Linked DNA regions of Homo sapiens: region 2 is linked to region 1. Evidence: fine-mapped expression QTL. A gene starts in region 1. The other region holds a variant in brackets. All regions are shown on one strand. Distances are between the middles of the regions.

The links.
Region 2: its variant is fine-mapped to the expression of SEC22C in lymphoblastoid cells (GTEx, PIP above 0.99).

The regions. Positions count from the first base shown.
Region 1 is chr3:42,574,240-42,590,505 of GRCh38, reverse strand. It overlaps SEC22C (SEC22 homolog C, vesicle trafficking protein), which reads left to right and starts at 8,539. Exons shown (of 7, transcript NM_032970.4): 1 at 8,539-8,660. It also overlaps a transcript of SS18L2 not described here. RefSeq lists enhancers at 8,124-8,253, 8,246-9,072 and a silencer at 8,454-8,783.
Region 2 is chr3:42,526,469-42,539,736 of GRCh38, reverse strand. VIPR1 (vasoactive intestinal peptide receptor 1) reads right to left here. Exons shown (of 13, transcript NM_004624.4): 5 at 12,241-12,344; 6 at 11,614-11,746; 7 at 8,805-8,958; 8 at 8,206-8,266; 9 at 7,868-7,934; 10 at 7,404-7,495; 11 at 4,633-4,762; 12 at 4,353-4,394; 13 at 2,169-3,647. The coding sequence ends at 3,456. VIPR1-AS1 (VIPR1 antisense RNA 1) reads left to right here and starts at 7,131. Exons shown (of 3, transcript NR_046654.1): 1 at 7,131-7,173; 2 at 7,642-7,716; 3 at 8,779-8,841. RefSeq lists an enhancer at 5,857-6,358. The variant G/T (reference allele first, on the strand shown) is at 9,804.

The DNA of each region.
Region 1 (16,266 bases):
ACAGGCGCCCGCCACCACGCCCGTCTAATTTTTTGTATTAGTAGAGACGGGGTTTCACCATATTAGCCAGGATGGTCTCGGTCTCCTGACCTCGTGATCCGCCCGCCTCGGCCTCCCAAAGTGCTGGGTGTGCATACTCAATCTATCTGCAGGAGCGGTTTGCTCGGCTTCACCCAGCGTGTCTGGCACCCAGATACATGGCTTCAGATCCATTGTCCTCTCTACATCACTCTGTGCCTCCAGGTCTGCATCTGGAGCATGAACATTGGCTATGGCATTGTCTCCTGCCAGGCCAAATCTGCAGGCCAGGAAAACTCTGGTATTAGCTTTACTCTTTGCTGAACGAGAAATTCGCGTTTTTCCACATAGCCTGGACTTATTTGGGGCAGGAATAATGCTTATTAGGTTGGCAACCCTAAAAAGCACTGGTATTTTCTCCATTTTACAGATGACGAAACAGGTTAAGTAACTTGCCCAAGGTTCCTTAGCAAAGCCAGTCTCTGAATACGGGCAGCCTGGCTTTAGAACTCTCACCCTTAACAACCCGGGACTGCCCAGGCACCATACCGCAAAGGTGTTGTGCCGCAAGATGCAAGGAGGAAGCTGGACATACCTTCTTGGGCCACATGGTTACTCCTGGTGACCACTGCAACTGAATTGGTTGTAGTCTTCTAGACCAGTGGTCCCCAGCCTTTTTGGCACCAGGAATTGGTTTCGTGGAAGACAATTTTTCTTGTCTTCCACGGAGGTGGGGGTGGTTTTGGTATGAAACTCTTTTACCTCACATCAGCAGGCATTAGATTCTCATTAGGAGCGCGCAACCTAGATCTCTTGCAAGTCCAGTTCACAATAGGGTTCACGCTCCTGTGAGAATCTAATGCTCCCGCTGATCCTAATGCCCCCGCTGATCTGAGGGGGCAGAATGCTCGGCGGTAATGCTTATCCGCCCTCTGCTCACCTCCTGCTATGCGGTACCGGTCCCCTGTTCTAGCCATCCGTGGTGGATGTGGTAACAAGATTCGTTTTCCCTGGAGTGAGCAGCGGCCACTTCATTTAGGAGGGAGATCTTGGGAACCTACACTCCTAAAAAGGGGAGGTCCCTAGAGCTTTATTCCCCTGAGTGGTGGCCCTGATCCTGAGCAAGCTCATCTGCTTTACTGGGCTTTCTCTCCACAATCCCTTTATTCAAACCTGTGAAAAGGCAGCTTTCATCCCATTTCTTTTTTCTTTTTTTTTTGAGACAGAGTCTCGCTCTGTCACCCAGGCTGGAGTGCAGTGGTGTGATCTCGGCTCACTGCAACCTCTGCCTCCCGGGTTCAAGCGATTCTCCTGCCTCAGCCTGCTGAGTAGCTGGAATTACAGGTGCCTGCCACCACACCCGGCTAATTTTTTTTTTTGTATCTTTAGTAGACATGGGGTTTCACCATATTGGTCAGGCTAGTCTTGAACTCCTGACCTCGTGATCCGCCCGCTTCGGCCTCCAAAAGTGCTGGGATTACAGGTGTGAGCTACTGTGCCCGGCCTGCTTTCATCCCATTTCACAGAGAGGTAAACCCGGTGAGAGAAGTGAGGTAACACCTGAGCTGGGGCGGACTCAGGGCTTCCTGGTTACCAAGCCTGCACTGTTAACTCCACATCAGGCTTCCTCCTCAGGAAAATTCCCCAAAGCTTTCAGAGACACAGAGTGGGCAGAAAAGGAAACATCAGGAGCAGGATACAGGTCTTCCGTAGTTCCACTCAGCCCTATTCCTGTTTAGACAAGTGAGGAATGACAATAACATGAGATGGTCCAGACAACAATCCTCCCACCTGTGAAAGCTTCCCTGGGATTATGGGCATGAACCACCATGCCCGGCCTATACTTTTGTTCATAAAGTTTAAGTGACTTGCTTACCAATCTTATGCAAAATTTCATGTAATTTATATAATACTATATAACATAATGCTACATATGGTATGTATATATACACACAAAGATCTGTCCTGGGTATTAAGTATCTTACCTGTAGGCTTTATGTTTATGGCTCTGAAATGGAGGGAACTGGGACATACATGTTTTGAGGAATAAAGTGAAGGGGTTTTTTTGTTGTTGTTGTTTTTTGATACAAAGTCTTATTCTGTTGCCCAAGCTGGAGTGCATTGGTGCAATCTCAGCTCACTGTAACCTCCACCTCCCAGGTTCAAGCAATTCTCCTGCCTCAGCCTCCCGAGTAGTCTGGGACTACAGGCATAAGCCACCATGCCCAGCTAATTTTTTTGTATTTTTAGTAGAGATGGGGTTTCTCTATGTTGGCCAGGCTGGTCTTGAACTCCTGACCTCATGATCTGTCTGCCTCGGCCTCCCAAAGTGCTGGGATTACAGGCGTGAGCCACCGTGCCTGGCCCCGGTTTTTGTTGTTGTTGTTGTTATTGTTGTTTTTGTTTTTGTTTTTTTGAGACAGTTTCACTCTTGTTGCCCAGGCTGGAGTGCAATGGTGCAATCTCGGCTCACTGCAACCTCCACCTCCGGGGTTCCAGCAATTCTCCTGCCTCAGCCTCCCAAGTGGCCAGGATTACAGGCATGCACCACCACGCCCAGCTAATTTTGTGTTTTTGGTAGAGATGGGGGTTTTTACCATGTTGGTCAGGCTGGTCTTGAACTCCTGACCTCAGGTGAACCACCCACCTCAGCCTCCCAAAATGCTAAGATTACAGGTGTGAGCCACAGAGCCTGGCCTAAAGCGAAGGTTTTGAGTGAGGTTTATATAAGGATTTGATTTTTTTTTTTTTTGAGACGGAGTCTCGCTCTGTCGCCCAGGCTGGAGTGCTGTGGCACGATCTCGGCTCACTGCAAGCTCCGCCTCCCAGGTTCATGCCATTCTCCTGCCTCAGCTTCCCCAGTAGCTGGGACTACAGGCGCTCGCCATCACGCCCGGCTAATTTTTTGTATTTTTTTTTTTTCAGTAGAGACGGGGTTCCACTGTGTTAGCCAGGATGGTCTCGATTTCCTGACCTCGTGATCCGCCTGCCTCGGCCTCCCAAAGTGCTGGGATTACAGGCGTGAGCCACCGCACCTGGACTGATTGGTTTTTTAACATCATTAAAGTTTCTATCAGGTAAAAAAAAATGAGATGGTGTTAGGGTGAGGCAGGTGTTATAGGGGACCAACCTGTTCCAGCATACAGGGAAAGACCTCCAGAAGAAAAGGTTTATAAAGGCAGTATAAAGGCAAAGTGGAGGTTAAGCAGGACACAGGTGTCCAGATTCTGTACTCTCCTAGGAGTAATGGGAGCCATGGATGGTTTTAGGCAGAAGAATGATGAAGCCTGAGATGCATTTAGAGTTTTATTGGCTGTAACATGGTGAAAGTTAGGGAAGACGCCCAGATGAGAAACAAAAAGAACAGTGACAAGGCTGCTACAAGCATGCAGGCCAGAGATAGTGGGAGCAATGAGAAAAGAAGTGTGTGCATTTGAAAGACATTAGAAGTAGATTTGGCAGGCCTTAGTGATCAAGTGGGGAGGGAAAGAAAAGGGAAATTAGGGATGCCTTCTGGGGTTCTGGGTTAAGCAACTGAGAAACTGGTGATGCCCCTTATGTAGGCAGGGAACAGTGGGGGAGATGCTGGAATGGAAATGAAGGTGATATATTCAGTTGTGGAAATGTACAGTGTGAGGTGATGTCAAACGATGTTGAGGCTTGTGGCTATTTGGGGCTGAAACTCAGGGACAAAGGCTAGGTTGGAGATACAGCTTTGAGAAACATCACTTGTAGAAACTGACTGGAACTATGTAGTGGATAAGACTGCCTAAGGAGAATGTGATAGTTTCTCTTATGGCAGAGGAAAAGAAGCTGCAATGGAGACTGAGGGGAGAAAGAGACTAGAGATATAGGAAGAGGAAAACCAGGAGAGTGGGGGTTATGGCTTTTTTTTTTTTTTTAAACAGTGACTGAAAAGGACATACAGGACAGCAATGACAAATGCTGTTGAAAGGTCAAGGAAGGGGTGGGTGCAGTGGCTCACACCTGTAATGCCAGCACTTTGGGAGGCCGAGGTAGGCAGATCACTTGAGGTCAGGAGTTTGAGACCAGCCTGGCTAACATGTTGAAACCCTGTCTCTACTAAAAATACAAAAATTAGCCAGGCATGGTGGCACAGGCCTGTAGTCCCAGCTACTTGGGAGGCTGAGGCTGGAGGATCACTTGAATCCGGCAGGCAGAGGTTGCAGTAAGCCTCAGTGCCATTGCACTCCAGCCTGGGTGACAGAGCGAGACTCTGTCTCAACAACAACAACAAAAGAACAAGGAAGAATAAAGACTAGGTCTTTGAGGAGGGCATTTTCAGTGATATGGTGAAACAGGTATCAGAACTGCAGGGGACTGAGAAATAATGAAAGGTGAAGGTGAAGCAATGGAGTGTTCACATATAGACCACTTTTTCCATGAGGTTTGGTTGTAAAGGGGAGAGGGGAAAGAAGGTGGTAGCTGGAAGGAGAGGAGTTGTCTGGAGCTAAGGGACATCACTTTGATGGTTGCTCTTTCTTCAGTAACGGAGGTTCCTGGGAGAGCAAGCGGGGGAGGGGGGGTTGAAGAGTGGGAGATCTGGGGAGCATGCAGGATATTTGGAAGTTGATTTTGGGGGAGAGCTGGAGAGAGAGCTGCCTTGGCAAATAGGAGCGCTGAAAGGTGTTGAGGACCTAGTTGAAGTTGACAATGTATGTAGCACTGATCTGTGTGGTTGTGAGATTTTGTCCAGCAGCACTTAGAGCCAAGAAGCAGATTCAGAGAAGACAGAAGGTTGGATTCTTCCAGGATTGTAGTGCTGCCAGATGGGTGTTACTATCCTTCTAGTTATGCCAGAAAGATAACTGTGCAAGGAATATAAGTATATTGGGAAGAATGTGATGGAGGTGATAAACCCTGAACTCTCAGCTGATGGGGAAGGAAATGAAGACTCGATGGAGCTTATAAATAAAACAAAGTAGAGGGACAAATGAACTGGAAGTTTCTGCAGGCTAGAGAAACCATGAAAGGAATTCAGAGAATAGCAGAAGGACAGATGAAAGATCAGGTGTCTGCATTTATAACTTCAGAGGTGGAGCTCTTCTGTGGTCCAGGGTGTTACCCTAGGAGTGGAGGACTGAAGAGGACTGGAAGAGAAAGACTCTGGAGTTGACTGTGAACCTGGAGCCAAAGTGAACAATGATTGGAGATGAGAGCTAGGACTTTAGGTACTACATCTCACCCCTGTTGTCCAATCTACCATGGTGCCTGAACCACACCAGTTGCACCAGTCAGAGAGTGTAAGGTCCTGTTCTAAAGCACTCGCACCACAAGTTTTGAGAGCCCAATTCCCCATATTTGTTTGTTTGTTTTGTTTTGTTTTGTTTGTTTTTTGAGATGGAGTTTCGCTCTTGTAGGTCAGGCTGGAGTGCAATGGTGCGATCTCGGCTTACTGCAGCCTCCTCCTCCCAGGTTCAAGTGATTCTCCTGCCTCAGCCTCCCAAGTAGCTGGGATCACAGATGTCCACCATCACGCCCGGCTAATTTTTGTAATTTTTCAATAGAGACGGGGTTTTGCCATGTTGGACAGGCTGGTCCCTGACCTCGTGATCCACCCACCTTGGCCTCCCAAAGTGCTGGGATTATAGGTGTGAGCCACCACACCTGGCCCCAATTCCCCATATTTGAAGAGCACTTATGCTACAGGGTTTTCAATTGCCTTTACCAACCCTGAATCTCCTGGTTTTTCTCCTTCTTTGTGCCTGTTATGACCTACCCTCATTATCAGAGACTCATTGTGGGAGGGGACTACACAAGGGTATAAATCCCAGGAGGTGGTGAACCCTGGAGGCTATCTTAGACTGTATCACAATTCTCTTCAGTTTTCATTTTGTAATTTTTCTCTGGCTATGTAAGCCCCACTTCGATTTCCGCCCATATGATGCTGACTTTCAAAAGTCTATGTCCCGGCTAGGCGTGGTGGCTCACGCCTGTAATCCCAGCACTTAGGGAGGCCAAGGCGGGCAGATCACTTGAGGCCAGGATTTCGAGACCAAACTGGCCAATATGGTGAAACCCCCATCTCTACTAAAAATACAAAAATTAGCTGGGCGTGTTGGCAGATGCTTGTAATCCCAGCTACTTGGGAGGCTGAGGCAGAAGAATCACTTGAGCCTGGGAGGCGCAGGTTGCAGTGGGCCGAGATTGTGCCACTAAACTCCAACCTAGGCCACAGAGTGAGACTCAGCCTCAAAAAAAGTCTGTGTTCAGCCCAGACCTCTACATTGACCTGCAACCTGTATATGCACCTGCTGTGTTGACATCTGTATTAGTCAAGGTTCTCCAGAGAGAGAGAACCAATGTGATATCTATATATCTACAATATAGATCTATATCTATAGATATATGGGAGGGGATTTATTAGGGGAACTGGCTCACATAGTTATGGAGGCTGAGAAGTCCCACAATAGACCATCTACAAGCTGGAGAACCAGGGAGGCTGGTAGACTGCTTCAGTTCAAGACTACCCTGTCTTAGACTTGGCCTCAGAACCAGGGAAGCTGAATGGTGTATCTCCCAGTCCAAGGCCCAAGCCGGGAGAACCTGGGGAACCACTGGTACAAGTCTTGGAGTCCAAAGGCTCAATACTTGCTAAATGAATAAATGGACGGACTCTACTACCTAATCTCCTAGAGTTAGGAGATTAGGGGAACGGGGAATTCTGATGCCAAGGGCAGAAGAGGGGTGTCCCAACTCCAGAGTAGAGAATTTGCCTTTCCTCTGCCTTTTTGTTCTATTATGTGGTGCCTGCGCATATTAGATGAGGACAGATCTTCCTTACTCAGTCCATTGACTTAAATGCCAATATCTTCTGGGAACACCCTCATAGACATACCCAGAAGTAATGTTCCCCCAGCTACCTGAGTATCCCTTAACCTAGTCAGGTTGACATCTAAAACTAATCATCGCAAAATCCTAACCAAGTCTCAAAGGTGCCTCAAATTCAACTTGTCTAAGATGGAGCTCAAGATCAATCTTATCTCCTCTTCCAGTGTTCTCCATATCTGTGAATCCCTGCACCATCCATCCATTTATCCAAGGCTGAACAGTGGCATCATCCTTGAAGCTGCTTCATCGCCCCTTCACATCCAACTCATCACCAAGTCCTATTGATTTTGCTCCTACATTTCTCTGCAGCCTTCTTAGATCTCTTTTTCTTCACTCTCACCCTAGTCCACACTCCAGCTCCATTCTCTCTTGCCCAGATGACTGCACTGGCTCCCAGGCCAGTCCCACCATAGCTCTGTTGAGACTTCTCCATTTTGATCTGCACTTTAGCAGCCAAAGTGAGTTTTATAAAATGCAATTTTGACCAGTGTTCTATGGTCCTAAACTTTCCACTATGGTCCATAAAATCCTACATGGTCCTGCCCCTTCTATTCGCTCTAGTGGATCTCACTCCACTCCTTTATTCTCTAAACTCTGAGTTTCTTTTCTTTTTGTGGTAAAATGTACATAACCATTTTTAAGTGTGCAGATCTGTGGCATTTGGTACATTCACATTGTTGTGTGATCATCACTACTATCCATTTCCAGAACTGTTTCATCTTCTCCAGCTGAAATTCTGTACCTATTAAGCACTAACTTTCCATTTCCCCCTTTCTGGGTTTCTTTTCATCCCTCAAAGGAGCTCTGCTGCCTTCCACAGAGTTCTTATATACATGCTAATCTCTCCATCTGAAACACACTTCCTCTCCCCTTTGCCTAGTTAGCCTCCTGTGATTCCCAACACCAGCCTAGAAGCTTCTGTAAATTCTCCCAAAACCCCTGCTCCTCCCTGAAGAGCAGTTTGTATTTATACAGGTGTTTGATTGTTTGAAGGGTGCTCTCACCCTGCCTCCTCTCTTAACATAGTTTTTCGTGTCAGGAATTCCTCGCTTTGTCCACAACCCCTGGCACATAGCAGGTGCTCAATACTTGCTAAATGAATAAATGGACGGACTCTGCTACCTACCTAATCTCCTTCCAGCCAGTCATCCATCTGTGGGTGCCTCGGTCCCCAGCTTGGGGTGTGTCCCCCTGGGTCGGACTTTGGCGCCCCATCCAGGCTGGCAGTAGGTTGTGCTCTTTGGTTTGCCTATCTCGGGCCTCCCGCCCAGCCGCGCGGACCGCAGAACATACGCCCCGGGCGTTATCACTCTGTCACGCGGAGCCTCCCCGCCTCCAGACGTCAGTCCGGTTGCTACCCCGGCAGGAATCGAGCTTAGATCACGAAGGCTCCTTCTCACCTCCGGACGTGAGAATTACAGGCTTGGATCTCAAACCGCCGCGGTGAGAGCCGGGAGGTGGGAAGAAAGTTGGGAGGCGCGCGCCCCCGTCACACTCCCTCTCCGTTTGGGTCGCAGCCCTTTAAGAACCACTACGTTCGCGCCTTCGCCGGGACGGGGGCTGTGGAGGCGCGCCGGGATTGGTCGGTTTGGGTGCGGGTGTCGCTTAGCAGCAGCGAATGCGGGGTAGGGGGGAGGTGGGGTGGCTCAAGACTCGCGCACGCGCACCACGGCCTACCTGCGCCTGGGCTGCCGGTGACCTGGGCCGAGCCCTCCCGGTCGGCTAAGATTGCTGAGGAGGCGGCGGGTAGCTGGCAGGCGCCGACTTCCGAAGGCCGCCGTCCGGGCGAGGTGAGGGCTGGCGGGCGGAGGCGGGTGCCGCGGCCCGTTAGCCAAGAGCAGGCGGGTTAGGGTGTGGCGCAGGGCGGGCCCAGAGGTGGAGGCGGCCCAGGGCCCACCCGGCCCTCAGTCCCGGCCTTGACCATGGGGCTCCCCACGGGGCTTCACTGGGCTTCTTGGAGTCCTCTGTCCCCTTTCTCCCGTCAGCCTGTTCCCGGACCCCGGGGCCACCCAAGGCACGCGCCTGCAGGAACCCTGGGCTGACAGATGGGCGCCAAGGGCTTCTCCCAGTTGGAAGAGATGGGGAGTGAGAAAGGGGACGATTGTTTCTTTAACCATTCACGAAGCTCACGTCAGAGCATTGTTTAATCTGAATAGCAAACTTCCCTTAGCATGCCCGTGTTATTAGACTTTAAATATTGGATACACTGAACCAACTTTTCAGAGCACTAGGTGTAGGACGTTCCATTACAGGTTTTGTGTTCATTACAGATTTACACATGTACCTCCAGAGCCAGAAGGATAAAGCACTCGGGGAAAAATTAGGTTTGTAGAAATAAAAGCCACGGAAGACTATTGCCAGTGTGAAAAGTAATTGGTGAAATTTGTGACATGGTCAGAAAAAAATACAGCTCAGAACCAACATATAGGGTAATATTTAATTACATTTTGCAGAGAAGAGTTGATCCCACTAAAGATAATTTTAGTAAAATGAAAAATGGAAGCAACTGGAAATGGTTTAACGTTGCCAGATAGAATTAAATAAACAAATAGTGTTTCCTCTGGAAAGTACATTTTGGACAATGTTAATAGCTCTGATTTAAGTGTTTGCATTTGCAACAGAAGCCATCTTGGAGTCAGTGTTTTTTATTCTTAGAATAACTTAGAAATCAACTAAATTCAAAAAGTAACATGATCATAGAGAGGACAACCTGACTTCAAGGTAATACAGTGGATAAAGAGCAGTTGTAACAAGTGTAATCTCAGGCTCCTTCCTCTACCAACAGGTCTCTGATTAGCTTATTAGTGCTCTAAGGAGAAGAAATTATTTTAGAGAAAGGGAGTAGCTGTAATTCCCAAAGTTGGATTTGTAGAAGAAGGATGTGGTGGAAAGATCCTAGGCTTTAGAATATTTGAAGTAAGGAAGTCTGGGTTGAATCTAGCTTTACCTCTTGAGCCTTACAGCTGCAGTTTTCCCACCTATCCGGTATAGATTATGTCTACCTTATAGTTACAAGCATTTAATAACATTATCAGTGTAAAAGGTCCTATCAAGTTTAGTTCCCTACCCCTCTTAGTTCCTAACAAATGACGAAACTGACCTCTACCCTCCTCTTCACTCCATCCCCAAGCAACTTGGAGCCTTAATAGAATCTACAGATTTGGTAACCAGTTCTCAAGTCCTGTGGCTGAAGGTGAATTCAGTAAGGGTGGCACAACTCAGTTTTGTCTTCTGTATTGTGTATTTGAGTCTTCTGTATTCTGTATATACTTTATGGTGAACACTTTGTGTTTGAATATTTGTGTGCCAAATGAAGCCTGTTTTGTCTAAATTCCTATTTTGCAAGGTGCAGTCATCTCTCTCTTTCTCTCTGTTTTTCTCTTTCTTTCTGTCTCTCTCAGCCTCTCTCTCTCTCAGTGCATGTGGTAGGGGCTTGAGGAGGGGTTAAGGGTAAAAGGTGGAAGAAAAAACAGGATCAAGGGTAGCCTGCAGCATAGGCATAAAGTCTTTGTTAATAGAACAGAGATAATCTATGACATGAGCAGTTTATAAACAGATGCTGGGAAGAAGATTTAGGAAATAAGGGAGGCAAATTAAAATATGTTTTTATAAAACCTAGTAACACGGATGCTGTGTATTTGATTACTACTTCACTCTACTTTTAGACAAATTTCATCTGTATAAACCTTTCTCTTTTTCTCTCCAAATACAGATTTATTGTGGAAAAGTGTTCAAACTGTAGATCAGAACTATGGCAAGGGATCTGTAAACCTGCATTTCTTGTTTCAGTGAGCAAAAATAAGGCAGCCCTTAGGTCATTCATTCATTTAACTTAGCAGTGTTTACTGAGTGCTTCCTAATATGTACCAGGCAAGGTGGTAGGTTATGACATCCACTGCCTTGTGGAAGGATCTGGTAAGATCTGGAAGACATTCCAGTGTCTCTTGTATGAACATTCTGAAGCTGCCTTTGTCCTTGTGGAATTGATTTTCTTTTCTTTTCTTTTTTCTTTTCTTTTTTTTTTTTTTGTTTTTTGAGACAGGGTCTCACTTTGTTGCCCAGGCTGGAGTGCGGTGATGCAGTCGCAGCTCACGCAGCCTTGACCTCCTGAGCTCAAGTGATCCTCCCACTTCAGACTCCCAAGTAGCTGGGACCACAGGTGTGTGCCACCATGCCTGGCTTTTTTTTTTTTTTTTTGTAGAGATGGGGTGTCATTGTGTTGCCCAGGCTGGTCTCAAATTCTTGGACTCAAGCAGTCCTCCCGCCTCAGCCTCCCAAAATGCTGGGATGACAGGTATGAGCCACCATGCTCAGCCTGCTTTCCTAGTTTTTTGTTTTGTTTTGTTTTGTTTTGTTTTGAGATGGAGTTTTGCTCTTGTTGCCCAGGCTGGAGTGTGATGGCACAATCTCAGCTGACTGCAACCTCTGCCTCCTGGGTTCAAGTGACTCTCCTGCCTCAGCCTTCTGAATAGCTGGGATTACAGGCATGTACCACCATACCTAGCTAATTTTGTATTTTTAGTAGAGACGGGGTTTCTCCATGTTGGTCAGGCTGTTCTCGAACTCCCGACCTCAGGTGATCCACCTGCCTCTGCCTCCCAAAGTGCTGGGATTACAGGCATGAGCCACTGCACCCAGCCGCTTTCCTGTTTTAAGTTGAATACTAGTTGTCTTTGAGCAGCTTTATTTCAAAGAGTCCTGAGATTATAGTACCTTCCAGTTTAGAAATGTGATGTAGTAAAGGAGCTATTCACTATAAAGTGTGCCCTTCAGTGTTCATGCATAAAACATCAAAATTACAGTTAATTAGCAGATAAGATATTGGTGGGGATATTTAAAAATTATATTTAAACAAAAAAGTATTAGCATAATTTAAGTAACCAGTACATGAGGATCTTAAGTTAATACTTTTTTCCAGCTTTTATTTTAAGATAATTATAGTTGCAGGAATTTGCAAATATAGTACAGAGAAGTCTCATGTACCCTTCACCTAGTTTTCCCCATTGATTACATATTATATAATTCTAGTAAACAGCAACTCCAGGAAATTGATGTTGGTATAAAGTGTGTGTGTGTGTGTGTGTGTGTGTGTGTGTAGTACTGTCACTTTATCGTGTGTAGATTCCTGTAATCATCACCGCAATCAAGATACAGAATTATTCCATCACCAGATGCCTTTGGCTGTTCATTCATAGTCACACCCATTCCCTTCCTCTCTACCATCCCTAACCTCTGACAACTGTTTATCAGCCCTCCATTTCTATAATTTTGTCATTTCAAGAATGTTACGTAAAAGGATGCATATTGTATATAACCTTTTGATACGGGCTTTTTATAACCAAGCATAATGCACTTGAGATCCATTCAAGTTGTTCTGTGTACCAGGACCATAGTTTATTCTTCTTCTTTGCTGAGTAGTATTCCATGGAATGAATATACTGCGGTTTGTTTAACCATTCACTATTTGTAGGACATTTTGGTTGTTTTCAGGTTTGGTTGTTATAAATAAAGCTGCAATGAGCAATTGTACAGAGGTTTTCGTGTAGACACAAATTTTTATTTCTCTGGGATAAATGTCAGGAGTGTGATTGGTAGATTGTACAATAATTGCATGTTTAGTTTTAAAAGAAACTGCCAAACTGTGTTTTGTTTTTGTTTTTTTTTTTGAGATGAAATTTCATTCTGTTGTCCAGGCTGGAGTGCAATGGTGCAGTCTTGGCGCACTGCAACCTCCGCCTCCCAGGTTCAAGTGATTCTCCTGCCTCAGCCTCCCAAGTAGCTGGGATTATAGGTGCCCACCACCATGCCTAGCTAATTTTTGCATTTTTAGTAGAGATGGGGTTTCACCGTGTTGGCCAGGCTGGTCTCGAACCCTTAACCTCAGGTGATCCACTCACCTCAGCCTGCCAAAGTGCTGGGATTACAGGCATGAGCCACTGCGCCTGGCCCAGACTTTTCTAGAGTATACCATTTTACAGTCCAGTAATGCATGAGAGATCCAGTTTGTCTCCATGCTTGCCAGTGTTTGATACTGTCACTATTTATCATTTTAGCTGTTCTGATGGGTAGGTAGTATTATCTCATTGGGGTCTCAAGTTGCATTTTCATAATAGCTCAATATCTTTTCATGCTCTGATTTGCCATCCATATATCCTCTTTGTGAAATGTCTGTATGTGTGTTTTTCCCATTTTAAAATTGGATTGTTTGTGTTTTTTCACTGTTGAATTTCAAGAGTTCTTTATACATTCTAGATTTGAGTTGCTTATCAGATATGTGGTTTACAGATATTTTCTCCCAATTTCTAGCTTGTCTTTTCATCCTCTTCACATGGGCTTTCCTAGAGAAGCAAAATTGAAAAGTGTTCAATTTTGTTGCAGTCCAGTTTTCCGAATTATCTTATGGATTATGCTTTTGGTGTCATATCTAAGAGCTCCTCACCAAGTCATAGGTCCTGAAGATTTCCTCCTATGTTTTCTTCCAGTTTTATAGTTTTATTTTTCATATTTATATCTATGATAAATTTTTAGTTAATTTTTATGTAAGATGTGAGGTTTAGGTCAAGATTCTTTCTTTTTACTCCCGGCACTATTTATAGAAAAGACTACCCTTCCTCCCTTAAATTACTTTTGCACTTTGTAAAAAATCAGTTAGATATACTTATGTAAGTATATTTTTGGGTTCTGTATTCTGTTTCATTGATCTATGTCTATTCCTCCAACAATACCACACAATCTTGATTACTATAGCTATATAATAAGTCTTGAAGTAGGATAGCATGGTTTTTCCTATTTTATTCTTTTTTCAGAATTGCTTTAGCTATTTTAGTTTCTTTGCCTTTTCATACGCATTTTAGAATAATCTTATCTATAGCCACAAACTCGCTTGCTTATTTTTTTTTTTCAGTAGTTGTATTAAACCTGTATATCAGTTTGGGGGAGAATTGACATCTTTGCTTTGTTGACTCTTCCAATCCATAAAACATGATATATCTCCCCATTTATTTAGCACTTTGATTTCAGGAATATTTTGTAGTTTTCAGCATACAAGTTCTGTATATGTTTTGTTAGATTTATATCTAAGTATTTTATTTAAAAAATTATAGCTTTATTGATATTATTTTTTAGAGTGATTATAAATGGTATTTAAATTTTGGTTTCTATATGTTCATTGTTCGTATATAGAAATGTAATTTTTTTTAGATGAAGTATCACTCTGTCCAAAGGACCAACTTTTTGTTTCATTGATTTTTCTCTGTTTTTAAAATTTTCCATTTCATTGATTTCTATCCTATTATTTCCTTCCATGTTTGTGATTTAAGTTTATTTTGCTCTTCTTCTAATTTCTTGACTTGTGAGCTTAAATTACTGTTTTGAGACTTTTCTTCTTTTGGAATGTAAGCATTTAGTGCTATGGATTTCCCTCTCGGTACTGTTTTAGCTGTGTGACACAAATTTTGATATATTTTCATTTTCATCTAGTTCAATGTATTTTTTTAATTTCCTTTATATTTCCTTTTTAACTTACGGATTGTTTTAAAGTGTGTGTTTAATTTTCAAGTGTTTGGAGGTTTTCTTTACCTTTCTGTTATTAATTTATAATTTGATTACACTGTGGTCATATAACACACTTTGTATAAATTATTTTAAATTTATTGAGTTTTGTCTTATAGTCCAGGATATGGTCTATCTTGGTAGACATTCTGTGGTTTCTTGACTTAAACTCCTGTCCTCAGCAATCCTCCCACCTCGGCCTCCCAGAGGGCTGAGATTACAGGTATGAGCCATTGTGTCCAGCCTATTCTGTGGGGTCTTCAAAGGAATTCTTCTGTTGTTGGATGCAATATTATAAATCATGATTATATCCTTTAGTTGATAGTGTTTTCTAGTTCTTTTTGTAAATCTTTGCTGATTTCTGTTTACTTGTCTTATCAATTTTTGAGGTGCAGTTGATTGAAGTCTCCAGCTATAACTATGGATTTGTCTGTTCCTCCTTTCACTTTATGAGTTTTTGCTTCACTTATTTACATCTTTGAAGTTTGGTGCAAACACATTCAGGATTATTATGCCTTCTTAGTGGACTTATTCTTTTATCATTATGTAATATCCTTCTTTGTTCCTGGACATTTTCTTCACTCTGAAGTCTATCTGATGATAATATAACTCTTGCTTCTTTTGATTAATGTTTGCATGCTATATTTTTTCCATCCATTTACTTTCAACCTACCTATATTGTTATACTGGAAGTGAATTTCATGTAGATAGTATATAATTGGGTCATGTCTTTTATCTACTGTCAGTCTCTGTTTTGGCAATTGTCATATTTAGACCATTTACATTTAATGTAATCATTGATATATATTAGGGAATAAGTCTGCCCTTTTTTGTTTTGTGTTTGTTCTGTTTGTTGTTGCCATTGTTGTTATTTCTCTGTTTTCTTTTCCTTGACTTCTTGTGGGTAATTTGAACATTTTAAAATAATTACATTTTAGGCCAGGCCTAGTGGCTCATGCCTGTAATCCCAGTACTTTGGGAAGCTGAGATGGGAGGATTGCTTGAGACCAGGAATTCAAGACCAGCTGTGGCAACATAGCAAGATCCTGTCTGTACAAAATATATCTTTTAAAAAATTAGCTGGGTATAACGGTACATGTCTGTAGTCCCAGCTACTTGGGAGGCTGAGGCAGAAGGATCACTTGAGTCTTGAGGCTGAGGCAGAAGGATGACTTGAGGTTGAGGCAGCAGTGAGCCATGATTGTGTCACTGCGTTCCAGACTGGGTGACAGAGTGAGACCCTGTCTCAAAAAATAATAATTTCATTTTATAATCTATAGTGTTTTTTAGTATATCTCTTTGTATAGTTTTTAGTGGGGTGTATATGTGTTTGTGTGTGAGTATGTGTATGACTTGTTGTGGTCTCCTGATGTGTTTTACTATTTCAAATGAAATGTAGAAACTTTACCTCCTTTTATGTCTTTGAACCCTCCCATTTATAATTGTCTTAAATAGTTCCTTTACGTATGTTGAGAACCACATGAGACATAATTATTGCTTCATTCACCGAACATAATTTAGAAAACTCATGAGAGAATAATCTGTCATATTTTTAAAAGTTTTTACCCTTTCTGTTGTTCTTTCTTTCTTCCTGATATTCCAGGATTTCTTCTTTTATCATTTCCTTTCTGTTTAGAGAACTTCTTGACAAATTCCTTTAATGTTCCTTCATCTAAGTATGCTTTAATTTTTCTTTTATTCCTTTTTTTTTTTTTTTTTTTGAGACAGGGTCTTGCTATGTTGCCTAGGCTGGACTTGAACTCCTGGGGCTCAAGCAGTATAGCTGGGACTACAGACACATGCCACTGCACCTGGCTGCTTGAAGGATATTTTTGCTGAATACAG
Region 2 (13,268 bases), 49 kb after region 1:
ACACACGAATACGGGGGGATATCAGGGACTGTGGTGGGTGGGGCAGATACAGTGTGGTGTGGGGGCCCCTCCCAGCCTTCACACAGCCCAGGCAGTCTATAGGGTCCTAACCTGGAAGGCAAGGTGCTGCCCTTTCCTCTGCATTTCTGTCCCCCTCTCCCTTCTCCTTTCTTCTACTGGCCTGAGTTAATCTCTCAAGGAGTCCTGCCAGATCTCTGACCTTGTTCTCTGCACAGCCTCCATCCTCTGTGTATGCCTTAGCCCCCAACTTCTTGGGGCTCCTCCCACCAGCTGCTGTCCTTCCCCTGAGCCCAGGGGGGCAGAGTGGGTGGCAGAAGGCTCTGGGCAGCCCCTCGTCATTAATCATCTGTGCCTTAGCCAGGGACTAAGCAAAGTCATCTAGAACACTCCCTATTGTGCAGGTGGATGGAGAGATTCATAATCAGGAGGAGACCTGCCCATGATCTCTGAGAAAGTCTGAAGCAGAATTGGGATTAAATGACAAGGGCTGGGTCTTCTGGACCTTACTGAGAAGTATGGGGTGGACAGGGTCTCTGGAAGCAGTTCAGAGTGGCACCAAGTAGGGAGTGGGAGGAGGGAAACCAGAGAGAGAGAGGGAGAGAGAGAGAGAGAGAGAGTGGCATGCCCCAATTGGATGAGGGGAACATGGACAGACTGTCTGTCCCCTGTCTCTCAACTCCTATGCCTTGGAGTGGCGGGAATGCAAGATGCCCAGGGTCAGTAGACTGGGTGCCGTGGCTTACACCTGTAATTCCAGCACTTTGAGAGGCCGAGGTGGGCGGATCACCTGAGGTCCGGAGTTCAAGACCAGCCTGGCCAACATGGCAAAACCTCATCTCTACTAAAAATACAAAAATGAGCCAGGCGTGGTGGTGCATGCCTGTAGTCCCAGCTACTCAGGAGGCTGAGGCAGGAGAACTGCTTGAACCTGAGAGGTGGAGGTCGCAGTGAGCCAAGATCACACCACTTGCACTCCAGCCTGGGCGACAGAGCGAGACTCCATCTCAAAAAAAAAAAAAAAAAGACGCTCAGGGAAGAATGAAAGAAGTTCTAGATGCCCCAGCTCAGCTCTCCACCACCAGTACCTCACTGGTGGTCACCACTGTTGGTCTGGGCAGGGGTGGGGGCTACTGACAATGTTCTCTCTAGCAGGCCTGGGGGTACCTGAGGTCAAGGTTAGGAACAGCGCCTCCTTCTCGATCCTATGGCTGACCATGCACAGGGCAGGGCATGGAGTGTGAATCTAGATGGAGAGACCGTGCCACTCCTGGATATGCTGGGCAACTGATCAAAGGGCATTTCCCTGGGGGTGCCTCTGCCCATGGCTCACAGTCACTTCTATTCTGGCCTGAACACCCCTGACTCTGGCCTCTGAGGATACTGGGTTGGAACTGTCATTGATGATGGGTCCTGGAATGGTACTGGGTCAGACAAGGCATTGAAGTAGCTGGGCAGGCAGATATGAGCCTTTGCCAGCCCATTCTGACCACATTTTACCAGCTTGACATCCCTCTCCTGCTCCTCTAGCAAGTTTGCAGGAGGTGGGACCCAAGGAGGTCAGCATGGGAACGGCTTTGGAGACATCTCTTGCTGACTGATGATATTTGCCATACTGCCTCTGTGTCTAAACCTTTTTATTAGTGCCATATTGTCTCTGCTCACTCAACTTGTGTTGGTGACATTTGTTTTGTCCACTACCTACCTCCTCTTAGCTGAGCCCTGGGTAATTGCAACATGGTCATCCTAGACCCTTGTTTGCAGCAATGTCTGCGGCCTGTGAAACACTCACACTCAACCATTTCTGGGACCCTGGGCAGCTCTGCCAGCTGTTTTGTATTGATCTGAGATTAGAATGGTCTTTTCTTGGCTGGATTTAAGGAGTGGGGGGACACAATGGGGACCTGGTCTTCATCACACTCAGAGGAGAGAGGATACCACTCAAAAAGATGGGAGCTGAAGGCCCTCAGAACTGTGAATGCCTCATATGAAAATATGGATTTCTGTCAAAAGCCAAAAGAGTTGAGGCATCTGGTTTCAGTAATGTATTAGATCACCCATCCTTTGGGTGGAGGAAGATGGCTCCAAGTTGGAAGCTGGTCCCATTTTAGGCCATATGAGAATATCAACCACCAGGGGAACCAAGCCAATCCAAGCCAACATTTATTGTTGCACAAGCCTGTTGCAGTCCTGAGGGGATCTTCTGGCAGAGGTGTGGGTAGGAAGCTGAGTGGCCACTGGGGTGAAGGGCAGACAGAGGAGGCTGTGACCAGCAGGCTCCTATCCAGATGATACATGAGATGGAGGCCTCCTCAGCCACACTCCAGGGAGGGTGGGGTGGCAAGGGGGATTCAGGGATAATGGCATTAATAATACAAGTGGTAAACAAATAACCAAGAGGATCTGGCTGGTTACGATACACAAAAGTTAGCAGTAAGAGTCCGTGCTTTCACATTCCTATCAGACAGATCTGAGTTCAAATCCTGTATGTGTAGCAGGGTGAGGTATCTGCTTTCTGTCAGAGCCCATGGGTGCACATCTCTGAGCCTAGTTACAACAGTTGGCACATAGGTGGGTGGACAAGGAGGGCAGCTCTTGATTCCTGTTGCTTCCACAGCACAGAGAGATAAGTATGGCTGGTGTGACAGATCCCACTTGACAGATGAAGCCACTGAGACTTGGAGAGCAGGTAGGCTTAGTCCGAGACCTAGCATTCGCTGGTGGCTGCCTTCTCATTTCCCAGAGGCTTCAGAGTCCCTCAGTCCTTGGGTTGCACCGTCCTCCCACCAGACTGACCCAGGGGCCAGTCCACTTCGGTGGGGAACCACTAAGATAGGTGTGCTCTCCAAACAAAAACTCCAGAATAACCCACTTTAAAAAGCTGATAACTAAGCGTAAAGAGAGAATAGGGTAGTGAGCTGCATCTTCAGTCAAATGCCTGAGTGGTAATGCTTAACCCAAAGGAACTTGACAGCAATGGTGAAATTTCAGGCACTACCGTGGTGTTGGTGCTGGTGACCTTCCCGGGCAGAACCTTTCTGCCCTCAGGTCACACCAGTGTTGTTTGAGGATCCACCGGTTGCTTTCCTCCAATTGGGCAGAAGAGCCAGCAGGGGGCAGAGTCAGGATGAAAGTATGTAGACTTTTTGCCCTTGATTGGCGTAGGGGGCCTTTGGAGGAGGAGTCTAATGACTGAGTTCCACCTGCAATCCTCCAGGAGAGGAGCTCCCATCTCTCTCACTTGCTAGAAACGCTCCAGGCAGGCTCTAGGGCTGCGTTCTCTAGGAGTGTCCGGACCAGAGACCAGGGGGCCGGGGGCAGCCTCCGAGCCCAGGGCCGGGGCTGGCCGCGCCCGGGCAGGCCTCTGTCCCCGGCGTCTGCCGGGGTGAGTGGGAAGGGGCGGGAGGGGCCGCCTTGGGCCCCTGGGATCCTGGTGGTCAGACCAGGGAGACTTCGGCTTGGAAGCTGGAGGAGCGGCGGGCACCTGGGCTGACGCGGGTCAGCATGGAAACCTGCGTGCTGCACGTGGCGCCGTTGCTGCCTCCCGACGGGTGCCGGTATTTGGGGTTCCAGCCCAGGACGCCCTGCAGGTGCCAGCGCCGCCACTTCCGCCTCAGCTCCGCCTGCACCTAGGAGAGGGGAAGGTGGTCAGGCCCACTGCTGTGGAGCCTCTTCCACTGCTGATTGGGCTGCCCTGGACTTAGGGTTCTGAACTAGCCAGTCTTATTCTCTTTAGGAAATCAAAATGGAGGGACCCCTATGCTGCCTCGGGCGGTGCAAACTTGGGACTGGGTTGAGGCCAGGTTCAGAAGGAGGCCTTGGAATGGCAGGAGGTAAGAGGCAGAGAGGATCCTAGAATACAGTCCAGGGAGAGGGAGGGATGCTGCCTAGGGGTGACTGTACTCCAATTCTTCCCATCCTGGGTCTCCAGCTCACTTGAGTGGGTTTTTTGTGCAATGTAACCAGAGCTCCACAGCAACTCAACCTTCATTGGAAGCCCTCATCCCTCCCCACTCACTGCACACAGCCACTTAACTAGGTGTTTCTCAAACTCTGTTGTGCACAGGAATCCCCCTGGGGTTTAGTAAAAAGCTGTTTGTTTGTTTTTTAAAATAATTATTAAAATGCAGATTCTAAGCCAGCAGGTCTGGGGTGGTCCCAGAGATGCGCATTTTTAACAAGGGCCTAGGTGACACCAGTGCTACTAGTTTGAGGACCATACTTGGAGCAGCAAGGTTTAACCCGTCCTTGCTCTGCACATATCCCACCAATGTTTCCGGACCCTGGTCCTGGGAGTTCCATTGCCTAAGCCCCAAGGACTGGGAGGGGCTTACCTCACCATTGAGGAAGCAGTAGAGGATAGCCACCACAAAACCCTGAGAAGGAAGATGACAGGAGAGGTGAGGTAGACAGACCAGAAGCCCCCAGCCCTGCCCCACCCCTGGCTCCAGCCCCTGTGTTCCCCTGGTTAAGGAAAGAGCTAAGCACAAAGTAGGTGCTTATCTAATACTTATTACAGTAAAAAGGTTGGAATCCAGTGGCAAGGGCCAAGACTCCAGGTTGAATTCCCTTAAAAGCCAGGGAAGAATGCAGCCTTAAGTCAACAGCCCATACCTGGAAAGACCCCACGACGAGCTCAAAGACCATCTTCACTTCAGGCTTAAAATTGTCCGGAAAGAAGGCGAACATGATGTAGTGTACTCCAAACAGGGGGATCAGCAGGAGTGTGGACCTGGCTAGCCTTCTGGAGACAGGGGAGGGACAGGCCATGGGTATGTGTGTCCACACATGTGGATATGATAGGGTGTGGCATGGGGGCAGCTGGAGGCACAGAAGATGGGGACAATGACCAGGAAGTATGAGGATGGACTGTAGGTTCCTCTGAATATTATGCCCTTGTCTGCTCCTGTTCCACAGCTGCAGTGCCTCTGCCCTTCTGCCCCCAGCCCTCCTGGCCTGGAGGGAAGCATGAGAGAGAAAGAAACCCCCTCTATTCTCACCCTTCTGGAGGAGAGAGGGTAAGAGGTAAAGGAGAGGCCAGTGAGAATGATGCTAACAGGGACATGTTAGCTGAAATCCACTATTGGGAGTTCTGTTGCCTGGGCCCCCTGGTCTAGGAGAGGCTTACCTCATCATTGCAGTAGAGGATGCTCTCAGCCATCAAGAGCAGTAGAAAATCTCTTAGGCAACAAGAGATTCTGGTTCCTCCTCTCCTGGTCTCAGTTTTTCCAATTTGTATAATGCAGTAAGTGTATGCTCGACATAGTCAAATTATAGAAACAGAGGCCCACTATGAACTTGGAAGTGTTTTGGGTACTATGAAGTATAGTGCATCCATGAGAGACCATGAGAGAAGACGTACTAGGAAACAAGTCTTTCTAACTGGGTGCTGACCACATATGCCCAGGGCCACTTGGGAGGGTGATGGGGACCCAAGTTCATACCTGATCACCAGGGACAACCCAAAATTAATCAGTATCGCCCTCTATCTGTGTTTTTTCTGCTGTGTCTGCTTCTCCAGAAGTTGCCACCTTCTCTGGGGTTGCATCCCCCTCCTCCTACCTCCCCACACCAGTGCATATACTCCCAGCGTGCTCTGAAGGACCAGCTCCTTCTTCACAGCTTTGTGTGCTCAGTAGGGTCAGCATTCATTCTAAATGCTCACCCGCCTCCCATGGCCCAGAGCTCTTCCTGGTTCAGGCCTCCCAGCCACCTGACCTCATAGCTGATCCAGGCAGTGTGAACCCATTGCTCCCTGGCTAGGAGAGGTGGGGTGTGGATAGGGAGGGTCTCTGACTCTGTCTCTCCTGCCTTAGCAGTCAGTCCAAGGAAGTCTAGCCCAAGGCCTGAGGTCCCACAGCAAGCTGGGGGCAGAGGAGCTGGCCTTGCCCCTCCCACTCCTTCCTGGACCTGGTTCTCAGCCATGCCAAGATCCTGAGCAATGCCCACCCCTCTTCGGCTGCAAAACTATCCCACACACCGGAGGCTAACAGATGGAGGCTTTCTTTAAATCAAAGGCTTATGGGGAGGTGTAGAGTGGGAGCTGACAGCTTCTCCTTGAGGAGCTTCATCTCCAACTGCCCCCACCCCTTTTGCCTGCTGACAACTGTTTCCTTTCTGTCTCACCACACAGACCTGGCCCTGACCATGGCCAGCTCTGTTTGCCTCAGATTCAGGCCCTTTTGAACCATTGTAAGTTGGGGGAAATAAGGTCCCATCGGCAAAGGAGAGGATAAGGGTGCACAGGCCCGATGTGCTGCCCCTCAGCAGACTGCAGATGCCCCCCCCGTCCCCCCCAGCCTTTCCTTCTCAGACAGGAAGGGAAGCTCCGCCTACACACCTGGCAGGAGAGAATGCAGTCACACCAGGAATGTGAGTCTTAGTCTCATCAGGGAGAATCACAGGATTCCAGAATAGAATCCTAAATCCAGCAGTCTGTGACATTCTAGCCAGGAATCTTAGAACCACAGCACAGACTCTCCAAAGAGAAGCCAGGCCAAGAAGAATCCCAGGACTGGAAGGCCTTGTGGGACGTCCCAGGTTTGTCTTGTGTCAATAGCACTGATACTCAATCTCCTACTCCCATCTGTGAGCATGCAGACCCTACTTGCCTTCCCACAGCCTCCCTTTTCATATTTTTCATGTTTCTTTAGCTCTGTCTTCAAGCCTTGTTGCTCCCGCAAAAAAACCTGCCTCTTCCTCCAGTCCTCCCAAGCAGGGGGAACAGTCCTGACACCTTTCCAAGCCCTGGTCCATGGACATTGTGCCCCCTTCTCCCTGCCCATGGTGACCTGCTCCAAAACCCTCAAGGAGAAGGGAGTGTATGTCATTTCCTCCCTGTAAAGTAAAGATAATTTTGCAGGGGACTGTGTGGATGAAATGACATGATGCATGGAAATCCCTTAGCGTGTGCCTGGCATGTAAACTGCAGGTGTCATCATTATTACTGAGGAATACTGAGTCCCGAACATGGCTGTCTCATTGGTGGACTGGGGTCTCCCCCAGGGCATTCATCTACTATGTGTTTATTGCACCCTTTTTCCATGTGAGGCACATGCCAGGGACTGGGCACATGGTATGAACAAGACACAGGTCATCGGTGTCCTCTTGAGCTCCCTGGCTTGGCAGCAGATGCATACCTGGGAAGGATGCTAGGTGAGTGTGGGCAGGAGAAGCATGCAGGGCTCTGAGTGCAGCCTGGTGAGGGTGGGGCTGGAGCAGGGGATGGTGGTGGGCTGAGCCAGGCCATGGTGGAGGTGGGAAAGAACAATGTGGCTCTTTGGTGACTCTGGATGTTTGGGGTGGGAGGACTTCAAGGAGATGTGGGATGATTTGAGGACTGGGGATGGAGGTACTGGGGGCTGAGGCACTAGGCCCACACTCACGAGTATGGACTGCTGTCACTCTTCCTGATATCTGGGGGCCGCAGTTTCTGAAGCAGGATTCGGATGATGCAAATAAACAGGATGAAGTTTACCTAGTGGGTGGGGACCCGAGTTCGGGCAGTCAGAGCGGGAAGGCTGAGGTGTTCAGGCCCCTTGACTGCTGGCCTGTCTTCTTTCCCAGGGTCCTGCTGCCCCTCTCTCTATCTTACCTCTCCTCTGGCATTTCCCCTTTGGGCAGGTCATCCGGGAACTCTACCTCCTTCAAATCCCTAAGGACTGTGCTCCCAATCCGCTTACGCTCAAGGAAGAACTGGTAGGACAGGGGTGGGGATGATCCTGCATTGGGCATTAGGAAGCTACGTTTCAGTTCTGACCTAGATACTAATTTCCCATGTGACCTTGGGCTAAGTTGCCTGCCCTTTGGGCCTGTTTCCCCATCTCTAGGTGGTGGGAGGGTATCTTACCAAGATGGAGGTGAGGATGGGGCCCTTTATGATCCACCACAGTGAGGAGTTGATGGTGTCCCAGCACCTGAGCAGACCGTGGGGAGGAATGAGAGGGATTGTCCTCAGCCAGAGAGAGACTCAGCAGCACCTCCCCCAGTTGTCCCCAGCTCTGCTCCTGAGCACTTTAGCAACCCCGGGCCCAGAGTCTGTTGCTCCCCAGGTCCTCCTCCAGCCTCCCCTCTGGCCCGAGAGCTGTGGTTTTTGTCCACTCACCAAGGCCAGATGGCATTATCATCCCACCCAGGGGGCCTGCCCAAGTGATGGCGGCCGGGGGAGTGTGTGGGGCAGCAGCTCACCCATAATCCTCAAAATGGATCCTGGCGATGGTCCACACCATGGTGAATGTGCTGGGTACCCCTGTCAGGCCCAGGGAGAGTGAAAGAGCAGAGAGGGCACAGGAAGCAGGGGTAGAGGGCATGAGGGAGAGATTTTGGAGAAAAGCAGGGAGAGGGAGGGAGAGAGAAAAGGGTGGGTTGTCAGTCTGCTGTCTTTGGTTGCATAGGTTGTTCACCACGGAGGGATGCTCCACTGAGGGGGTGAAGCTGTATGCCTGAAGGGCTGTGTCTACCTAGACGGACATTCTCTTTCTAATTGTGACAGAGGCCCTTTATAGATTAGCAGTGGCCCTGTGTATTTCGGGAACTAAAGGGAAATGGAAAGATGTTCACAAAATCTGTCCCACAGGTCAGCCCTAGGTGCAGCTGCAACCTGAGGGACTTGTCCTGGGATCAGACATTTTGAGGACTTTCTTGACCCTTGGCTGATATCCTTGCAGGCAGGACCTGCAGCTAAGCAAGACGTAGGACTGCAAGCTGGGTTGGCACCCTCCCCCTAGGGAGTTCTCCAGGCCTTGCCCCCTCTGTCCCCAGCCTGGAAGCCCTCCCTGGTACCATACCCCAGCCGATGAGTATGTACCCCCAGAAGTACTTCCGCTCAGAGAAGAAGGAGACGGCAAGCAGGGTGTACAGGTAGAGGCCCTCCACCAGCAGCCAGAAGAAGTTAGCCATGACACAATATTGGAAAAAGACCATGGCTGCCTTACAGCCCACCTGCAGGGGGAGGAGAAAAGACGGGGTTCACTGGGGCTGTCAAGGGTCCTTGACTGCCCACACTCGTGTCTGGGGGGACAAACACAGTTGCAGTGCAGCCAACTTAATCTCTTTGTTGTTTTGCATTATCCCCTTAAAAATGTACTCATTGGTTTTCCCATTTTCCCTAATTTTAGATCCTCTGATACTTCGGGATAAACTGGTGATTTTAATTATCCATCCATCAATTCATCTATTCACCTTCCCATCTATATATCTACCCATCTGCCCATTCAATCATCTACCCACCTATCCATGTATCCATTTATTTACCCACTCACCCACTAGACATTCACTATCAACTCACTCATTTATCCATTTTTTATCCATGTGTCCATCCATCATCTATCATCTTCCCATCTATCAATCCATCCACCCACACACCTATCTCTCCATTCTTCTACCAACCCACTCAGTCATCTACCCATCCATTCATCTCTGCACCCACCCATCAATCCACTTGTGCATCCACCCACATATCTACCTACCTGCCCCTCTGCCTATCATCTGTCCAATCTTCCTTACTTAACCCATTTATCCTGCTGCCTACTTAGCCATCCACCAACCTGCCCATCCACACTCCCACCCCACCCACTCATTCATCTAATGCCAATTTGTATTGAAGGTAGCTGGAAGGTATGAGGGAGAATTCTTGCTTGAGTTTCAAGAGTCTGCTCAATGTGGGGGAGTGGAGGGCTGTGGACTGTGGAGTGGGGCCCAGATGGAAGTGTGGAGGGAGACTGGGACTGAGAAGAGGGTGGAAGAGGGGGAAGTAGAAATGAAGAAGAAGAGAAGAGGGGAGGGGT[G/T]GCCATTCCTCCTGGGGTTCAGAGGACCGAGTGGAAGAATGGGTTTCTTAGGCAGACGAGGACCATGAAGGAGTTAGGGAGACCCATGAGTAGAGCAATCACAGGGCTCTGGGTGGCCCACTTGGCATGACTGGAAGGTATTCTGGGCCTTCTGTCCCCTCCCAGAAAGTCCCCCATTTCAGATCAAGCCTAGATGTCTGTCAGCCAGGGCTTAAAGCCACCCTCCACCAGGAAACTGTCTGGCTTCCACTTCCCCCTGTACCCAAAACATTGGTTCCCACCCTTCCTTCCTGTACCCTTGGTTTGCGACATCCTCAGAGAGAAGCCTCCCCCTGCCCCCACCACTCCCTTTGGTTGGAAAGTCCTTCCTCAGGTCTCGCTTCAGTCCCTCCAGTTACAGGAGTTCTTGCCTCCCCATCTTCCTCCCATTTGCTTTTGGAGAATAACTCTTTTTTTTTTTTTTTTTTTTGAGATGGAGTCTTGCTCTGTCACCTAGGCTGGAGTGCAATGGCATGATCTCGGCTCATTGCAACCTCTGCCTCCTTGGTTCAAACGATTATTCTGCCTCAGCCTTCTGAGTAGCTGGGATTACAGGTGCTGACCACCACACTCAGCTAATTTTTTTTATTTTTGTATTTTTAGTAGAGACTGGGTTTCACCATGTTGGTCAGGCTGGTCTTGAACTCCTGACCTCATGATCCGCCCAACTCAGCCTCCAGAAGTGCTGGGATTACAGGCGTGAGCCATAATCCGCGTCTGGCCATAACTCAGCTCTTTACCAGGACAGTTATCTGTGCTTCTTCCTAGTCTTAGAAAAGCTTCGCAGTAATGAATTGGGAAGCCAGTCTCCATAATTATCCGTAACATGTGCACAGGAGGCAGCAGGTTCCTCCACAGGTCCTGTGGCTCACAATGCTCATGTCTGACTTGGCCTCACAGCTCCTGGGACAGAACCTCTGAGAAGCTCTGGGAATGGCCAAAGTGGGTCCCCTAGGTTTTCTCTCCCCCTTGTTGAAATGCCTGAGATTCCAGTATGATCATTTCACTCTTTGGGGAGAAGGTACTGCTGACCCCTGATATAATGCACTGCCTCTGGGGTCATGCATGAAGCAATGAGTTACTGACCACAAGGAATGAGTGGGGGCTGGGGCTGATCTCAAGCTCTCTGTCAAAGCTTGGGGCACTCAGAGAGGGTCCCTAAGAATCCCTTGGAGATGGCCCCCTTAGTGACTGGCAATGAATTCCTTAGATGATCCCTTTACCTCTCTTCCCTAGGAAGGCCCAGAACCAGCCTGCTGTCAGGATCAGAACAAAAGAGGAGGACTGCATATGTATGGACCCACTCCAGATGGCACGGGGACGGGGGGAGTAGGAAAAGTGGCATGGTGAGCAGAGCCCTGGCTATGCAGGTGGCAGATGGCAGAGTTGGAAGGAATCTTGGAATTCCTTGCACAGATGGGGAAACTGAGGCTGTAAGTTCCCCAAGGCCACATAGGAAGTTAGCAACAGGTGGGACAGGTGCTCTGGGCTGTGGCCATGAAGTGTCCCATTTCCCATCTGCTTTTCTCACTGGCGGCGGCAGGTCTGTGAGCACCCAGATGGGTGAGCAACATCTCCTGTTGCCGGAGGGGAGTGTGATTTGAGTACTGCCAGGTGGGGTTGGGTGGGGGTTAGGCTATCCTTGGATTGAGGGGTGGGGTGGGAGGGAAGAGGGAGGAGGGAGAGGGAGAAGCAGGGGGAGAAGAGGAGATTACAGTGGTTAAAGATAACGGCGAGACTGAGGGAGGTGGGCCAGGGCCAGGATCCTCACCGAGCCCTCGGAGCACTGGTCCGACTCCCCGCTGTCGAAGAGGGCCAAGTCTTTGATGAAGACAGCGGCAGCCCTCAGGATGAAGGATATGAAGAGGTGCATGTGGATGTAGTTCCGCGTGCAGTGGAGCTTCCTGTGTGGGGTGGGCAGATCTGGGAGGCCAAAGGGGCCTTGGATCCCCACCCCAGCCAATGCTGTCCTATGTGCTGAGCAAGGGTGGGGCAGGGGAGCATGTGTCCTCCAGAGGGCAGGCCCCGCCTCAAAGGGGATCCCATCCTGAAATACGAGCCCCACCCCCAGGTACCCCATCCACCTGTGCAACTGGGCTCCCAAGGGCCTCAACCTCGTGTGTGGCCCCAGAAGCCTCATTCCTGTGTGCAGGCCCCACTCTCTGGTGCCCTGTCCCCAGGTGCAGGGCCATCCTAGGGGAGACTAGGCTGCAACACATGGAAGAGCTCAGCCACCTGCCTTCTCCAGGGGAAGCTGGCCTGGCAGGAGCTGGGGAGTATGTGCTGCTGGGGGGCAACAGTGGAGGGGTCGGGGCACGCCTGGGCCACGCTGGGCTCCACTGTGGGAGGGACACTTGCCAGGTTTGCTTTGAGGCCTGTGACTTGGGCTGGGCCTCACCTGAACAGGCTCAGGATAGCTGTGGCGACCAGAAGGGTGGCGAGGGACAGGCCGTAGCCAATGGTGTAGCCGGTCTTCACAGAACCGTAGAACATGGTCTGCTGCTGTTGGAGGGACAGGGAGAGGCTCTTGGGTGGTGGGGTGGGAGGCTCATCTAGGGGGTATTGGCAGGGGTGGGGTGCCCTACACACTCTGCCTGCCCAACCCTGCCTCAGCAAATGAGGAGGCTGAGGTCTGGGGCTCCCAAGAGCAGCTGAGCCCCTGACCCCTAACGCCCTGGTTTCTACAGACAGGGCAGGACTGTGTCTTAGGGTGGGGTGGGGGTTGAATGTACTTCCTGTCTTTGCTTCTTTACGAGGGACAAGTTGGTGAGGGAGAGAATGAAGACCTTGCACGTCCCTTTTGTTAATTTCATGTCTCCAGCCATGTGCCCGGCTTCCCTTCTGTGCCAGCTCTGAGCTGGGCACCCTAGGGGTGGGGTCTGCTTGCCCTTCAGACACCCCTCGAGGCCCTGTCTCTGTATAGGGAGGAGAGGTATGCGAGGTTGCGGGATGTCGAAGAAGACACTGGCACTAGTATGTCCCATTTTGGGCCCTTGGGAGTTGGGGTCGGTGGGATGAGGGCAGTCTGGCCTTTCCGGTGGAGGAGGGCAAAGCTAGGCCCCGAGGGTGTCTCGCTTGGTCCCCTCTCCTGATGCCCTCCCCATGGACACAGGTGCAGTGCAGCACGACAGCCACTAGGCAAGCCACTCCTTCCTGTCAGCCTCCCACGCTTGCCTGAGGAGAGGCAAGTGGTTAAGGGGGAATGAGGGCCTATAGCTCCAGTGGGCTTCAAAGGCCTCTGAAGAAATTGCTGTCCTCGGGGGTGGGTGGAGTGAAAGCCCGGTCTGAGAAGGGCGCCTGAGGGTGGGGCAGATGCCATCGCAGACAGACACACACACATGCATTTGCACCCCAAAGCAGTGAGGGGCTCCTAGCTGAGGACTCCAGCCTCCCCATCAATGTCCTTACCAGGCTCCCCAGTCTTTA